2 separate regions of the Homo sapiens genome follow, and region 1 is linked to region 2. A link means that fine-mapping ties the variant in region 2 to the plasma level of a protein whose gene starts in the linked region. Region 2 holds a variant in brackets. A gene starts in the other region. All regions are shown on their reverse strands.

Region 1 (2,905 bases), not on the chromosome of region 2:
TGGGCGACCGCCAAACCTTAGCGGCCCAGCTGACAAAAGCCTGCCCTCCCCCAGGGTCCCCGGAGAGCTGGTGCCTCCCCTGGGTCCCAATTTGCATGGCAGGAAGGGGCCTGGTGAGGAAGAGGCGGGGAGGGGACAGGCTGCAGCCGGTGCAGTTACACGTTTTCCTCCAAGGAGCCTCGGACGTTGTCACGGGTTTGGGGTCGGGGACAGAGCGGTGACCATGGCCAGGCTGGCGTTGTCTCCTGTGCCCAGCCACTGGATGGTGGCGTTGCTGCTGCTGCTCTCAGGTACAGAACCCACGACGAGGCCTGTGGGGTTTGCTCTCATCTCCAGCTGTCTGGGCCCTGCGGCTCTGCCTCCTGCTTGCTCCACCCTCCTCCTCTGTCTCTCACTCTTTACCGCCTGTCTCCCTCTCATGGCCCTGGGGCCTGGGTCTGTGGGTGTCAGCTGCACGTGGTGATGGGCTCAGGAGCCTGTGGCCCCAGTTCCTCTCCTGCCTGGAGAGCATCAGGCTGAGCTGGGCATGAGGAGCAAACCAGAGTTAGCAACCAGGACCGTGGAAGAACTAGGCTCAGGAGGAAGAGAGGCTGAGGGCGGTGCCTGGGGGTCGGGAGGGGAGAGGCTGTCCCAACCGGACCCTGGAAGATGCAAGATCCAAATGTGGTCCCCTCCTCTGGGAGGTGAAAGATCCTCCGGGCTGTGACTTTCTTCCTGTCTCTCTTTAAAAAAAAAAAAAAAAAGAGAGACAGGGTGTCCCTATGTTGCCCAGGCTGGTCTCAAACTCCTGGACCCAAGCGATCCTCCTGTCTTGGCCTCTCAAAATACTGAGATTTCCCTGTCCCTCCTGTCTCATTCAGATGCCTGCTCAAAGCCACCATGAGGGTCAAAGGCAGAAAGGGGGCTGGGGGCAGGGCTTCCGGTACCCCCACCCCATATCTGTCTCCCAAGTACTGGGGGCAGGGAGGACCGAGGGGTCTTGAAGCTGCTGTCATGGAAGGAGGAAGTAGCTCCGGGAACATAGAGGGCATGCAGGGGTGGGGCAGCCCAGGCCAGAGGAGGCCCTGACTGGCCCCGCCCACTTCCTCCCACCCAGCAGCTGAGCCAGTACCAGCAGCCAGATCGGAGGACCGGTACCGGAATCCCAAAGGTCAGTAGCCTCGCCTGCCGCTTCTGAGGGCAAGTTGTGTGCGACTATGTCCTGTGTCCGACTATGGTCCCTGTCCTGGGGGCGGTCCGCCTTCCCACCCTTGCCTGATCTCCCCATCCAGGATTCCCATCCCCAGGCCTCCTTAGGATCTCCTCTGAGCCCCACCCCCAGCCCACTGTCATCCTCATCAGACACATGCCCTCCAGCCTTGGCCACTGAAGGGCTGGGCTAAACTCTGGGTCATAGCAAGGGAGCCTGGGGGTTCCTCTAGGACTCAGGCCCGGGCCTGTCTAGCTGGGAATCTGGCTGAGTCTCGGGTGAGCCCTCCAGTGCAGGGTCACTATGTGAGGGGCTCAGGGATTCCCGGGCAGTGCTCACTAAGAACAAGGCAGTCGAAGCTGGAAAGAGGGTTCTGGAACAAGAAGTGGACCCAGTCCCTGCAGGAGGGAAGAGGGGGATGATAGAGGGAAGTCATGCAGGGAGGGGGTCGACTGAGGAAGGTCTCAGTTGACAGACTAGGAATTTGGCCTTTATCCCTGGAGGAACGGGGGAGACTGAGGATTTCAAGCCTGTGCAGGGCAGCCCAGTGAAAGGAGGGGCCAGGCCTGTGGGCCTCCAGGTCCTGGGGGTGTGGCCTGGGTCAGGCTGTTGTAATGGGCATAGGAAGGAATGGCAAGGTCCCAGGGCTCTTCCAAAGGAAAATCGAAGGGGAGGTGGGGCAGTCGGGAAGAGGTGGAGTCTGAGAGCTTGGCCGTGGCTTCTCATGTGGCTCAGCCTCTCACGTGGCTCTGCTTCCCAACTCCAACCTCAGCCTCCTGCCTGTCCCACACCCTGAGAAGCAAGGACTAAGCCCAGGGAGTCTGTGCCAGCCAGGGCAGGGGCCTGCTGCTGGGGCTGGCACTCAGGAAGATGCCAAGCGGAATGCTGAGCCTGGCCTTGGCACCCACAGGTAGTGCTTGTTCGCGGATCTGGCAGAGCCCACGTTTCATAGCCAGGAAACGGGGCTTCACGGTGAAAATGCACTGCTACATGAACAGCGCCTCCGGCAATGTGAGCTGGCTCTGGAAGCAGGAGATGGACGAGAATCCCCAGCAGCTGAAGCTGGAAAAGGGCCGCATGGAAGAGTCCCAGAACGAATCTCTCGCCACCCTCACCATCCAAGGCATCCGGTTTGAGGACAATGGCATCTACTTCTGTCAGCAGAAGTGCAACAACACCTCGGAGGTCTACCAGGGCTGCGGCACAGAGCTGCGAGTCATGGGTGTGTGCCAGGTGGCTGGGACGCTCCTGTAGCTGTCCGCCCCACCCTAGCCCGGCCTGCCTCTTGTGGTGATGGTCATGGCCCTAGAGCACTCAGGAGAGCCACTGGGACCTGAGGGAGCTGCCCTTGTAGGCCTAAAAGGTGGACTGTGGCCCAGGCTCACAACCCCACCCCTGTCCCCGCAGGATTCAGCACCTTGGCACAGCTGAAGCAGAGGAACACGCTGAAGGATGGTATCATCATGATCCAGACGCTGCTGATCATCCTCTTCATCATCGTGCCTATCTTCCTGCTGCTGGACAAGGTGATCAGGGGACGGGGGAAGCCTTGGGGGACCGCAGAGGAGGCCACCGCATAGGCCAGGCATATGCAGGGTCTCCATCTCCCCAGCTCTCGTTGTGGCCTTCTTGGTCCAGCCTGTCCCCACTGGCTCACCAATTCAATCATTCCTTCCTTCCTTCCTTCATTCAGCTGTTCTTGCAGAATGCACCTCA
Region 2 (2,909 bases):
GGGAGGAAATAATGATCATATTGCAAATCAATAAAATAAGTAACAAAAATAGAGAAAATGAAAATCAAAAGTTTGTTTTTTAGAAAAAAAAAAAAACCAGTAAAATTAATGAGCCAACATTAAACTGGCCAAAAAATTAAAAAGACCAAAATTAGGAATCAAAACAGGTACATCACTACCAACCCAAATTAAAAGGATTGTAAGAGACTGTAAATAACGTTGTGCCAATAAATTAGACAATGCAGATGAATTGGACAAATTCCTAGACAGACACAAATTGCCAAAACTGGCTCAATAGAAAATCCAAAAAGACTTTATTTTCTATGGTGGTTGTAAAAAAAAAAAAAAGTATTATAAACTAGGTGGCTTAAGACAACAGAAATTTATTATCTCATGTTCTAGAGACATGAAGCTCGATCAAAGTGTTGGCAGGGCTCTGCTCCCTCTGAAACCTGGAAGAGAGAATTCTTGTCTCTTTCCCACTGCTGGTGTTTTCAGCAATCCTTGGCCTTTCTTGGTGCTCCTTGGTTTTACAACTGCAGCACTTCAGTCTCTGCCTGCATCTCCACATGTGCTGTTCCCTCACGTGCCTGTCTCCTAGAGGCTGAAGTGCCCAGCCTACTCCAGTGTGACCTCATCTTAATGAATTACATCTGCAATGACCCTCTTTTGAAATAACGTATTCTAAGGTACTGGGGGTTAGGGCTTCAACACATCTTTTTGGATGACACAGTTCAACCCATAACAGACATGTAACAAGTACGGAAATTTAATACTTTCCACAAAGAAAATCTTCCCACAAAGAGAAGCCCAGGTCTAGATGGATTCACTGATGTCAATCCATCAAATATTTAAGGAAGAAATTATACCATCATACACAAACTTTCTGAAAATAGAACAGTTCTCCACTTACTCTGTGAGGATGTTATTACCCTGATAACAAATTCAGACAAAGACATTACAAGATCAGCATCCCTTGTGAATGTACAAAAATTCCCAATGAAGTATTAGCAAACCAAATATGGCAATATGTATGAAGGATAGATCATATACCATGAATGCAAGTTTGGCTTTCCATCAAAAAAGGCCAGGTGCAGTGGCTCACACCCGTAATCCCAGCACTTTGGGAGGCCAAGGTAAGAAAGTGCTTGAGCCCAGAAATTTGAGACCAGCTTGGGCAAGATGGTGAGATCCTATCTATACAACAAATTAAATAAGGCAGGCACAGTGGCACACACCTGTAGTCCCAGCTACTCAGGAGGCTGAGGCGGGGGGATCACTTGAGCTCAGTAGTTCAAGGAATAGCGAGCTGTGATTGTGCCA[C/T]TGCAGTCCAGCCTAAGTCACAAAGGGAGACCCCATCTCTTGAAAAATAAAAAAAAGTTTATATCTGGCACTGTGGTATGCACCTGTAGGTCCAGCTACTCAGGACGCTGAAGCAGGAGGATCACGTGAGCCCAAGAGTCTGAGGGTCTAGTGGGCTATGATTGCATCTTTGAATAGCCACTGCACTCCAGACTAGGCCACATAGCAAGACCCTCTTAGCAAAAAATTAATATAAAACACCATATTAATAAGCTAGAGGACAAAAACCACATGGTCATCTGTCTTAGTCTGTTTGAGCTGCTATAACAAAAGTTCCATAAATCGAGTGGCTTGTAAGCAACAGAAATTTATGTCTCAGTTCTGGAGGCTGGAAAGTTGACAAAGCATCATGGGCAGATTGATGAGTGCCTGCTTCCTCATAGACAGCACCCTCTTGCTGTGTCCTTACATGGTGGAAAGGAGAACTAGCTCTCTGGGGTCTCTTATAAGGGCACGATCTCATTCATGAGAGTTTTGTCCTCATGACCTAATTCCTTCCCAAAGGCTCCACATCCTAATAACATCACCTTGGAGATTAGAATTTGAACATAAGAATTTTGGAGCAACACAAACATTCAGACCATCATCTCCATAGATGTAGAAAAGCACTGTTCTAAATCCAACACATATTTATGATAAAAGCTCTCCGGGAAGTAGGAATGGAAGGGAACTCCCTCAATCTAGTAATAATAAAGGGCATCTATAAAAAAAAAAACCTACAGTCAATATCATAGTTAACATAAACCACCAAAAGCTTTTCCCCTGAGATTAGAAACAAGAAAAGAACGTCTGCTGTCATCACTTATGTTGTACTGGAGGTTTCAGCTAGTGTAATAAAGGAAACGAAATAAAAGGCATCAAATTGAATAGGAAAAAGTGAAACTCTATTCACAGATCACCTGATATGTAGAAAATCTTAAGGAAAATACACACATACATACACACGCACACAGATAAAACTACTAAAATTAATAAGTTTAGCACAGTCTCAGGATACAAAATTTTTTGAAAAACATATTTCTCTACACCACAAATTAGCAGTCTGAAAATAAAATTGAGAAAACAATTTCATTCCAGGTAGCATCGAAAGAATAAAATACTTAGGAATATTAGAATCAAATTAATAAAAGAAGTGTAAGGCTTGTACACTGAAAAATACTTAATGGGGCTGAGATAAATTGACATTTCACATTCATAGAATGGAAGCCTCAATATTGTTCAAATGACACTCCTTCTTAAATTAACCTATACATTCAATACACAATCCCTCAAAATTTCAGCAGGCTTTTTTGGGGTACACACTTCACAAGCTGGTCCCTATAATCTAGAATAAAAGAACTAGAATGGCCAAAACAGTTTTGAAAAAGAAGAATAAAGTTGGAGGAATTATACTACTTAATTTCAAAATGTGTTATAAAGTTATAGTAATCGTGACAGTGTGCTATTGGTGTAAGAATAGGCATAAAGATCAACAGAATAGAACTGAAATAACCCCCTATGTGGTCAGTTGATTTTCAACAAAATTGCTAAGGCAATTTAATGGGGAA

Alleles and levels. Positions count from the first base shown, and alleles are read on the strand shown. Strength reflects both the effect of a copy and how common the allele is.
In carriers of allele C in region 2, the plasma level of the protein whose gene starts at base 154 in region 1 tends to be higher than with T alone (weak association).

The links. PIP is the posterior inclusion probability: the model's chance that the variant is causal. Protein levels are from antibody-based Olink assays in UK Biobank. Linkage for the fine-mapping came from a reference panel and not from the study's own genotypes, which makes the PIPs less certain.
Region 1: CD79B starts here. The variant in region 2 is fine-mapped to the plasma level of the CD79B protein (UK Biobank, PIP above 0.99).

What each region holds. Positions count from the first base shown.
Region 1 is chr17:63,929,580-63,932,484 of GRCh38, reverse strand. CD79B (CD79b molecule) reads left to right here and starts at 154. Exons shown (of 6, transcript NM_000626.4): 1 at 154-290; 2 at 1,100-1,150; 3 at 2,100-2,411; 4 at 2,597-2,715. The coding sequence starts at 224. RefSeq lists enhancers at 1-174, 148-537 and a silencer at 1,235-1,304.
Region 2 is chr2:226,829,145-226,832,053 of GRCh38, reverse strand. It overlaps a transcript of RHBDD1 not described here. Among named protein-coding and RNA genes, the nearest start is that of RHBDD1, 5.5 kb to the left of the region's middle. The variant C/T (reference allele first, on the strand shown) is at 1,324.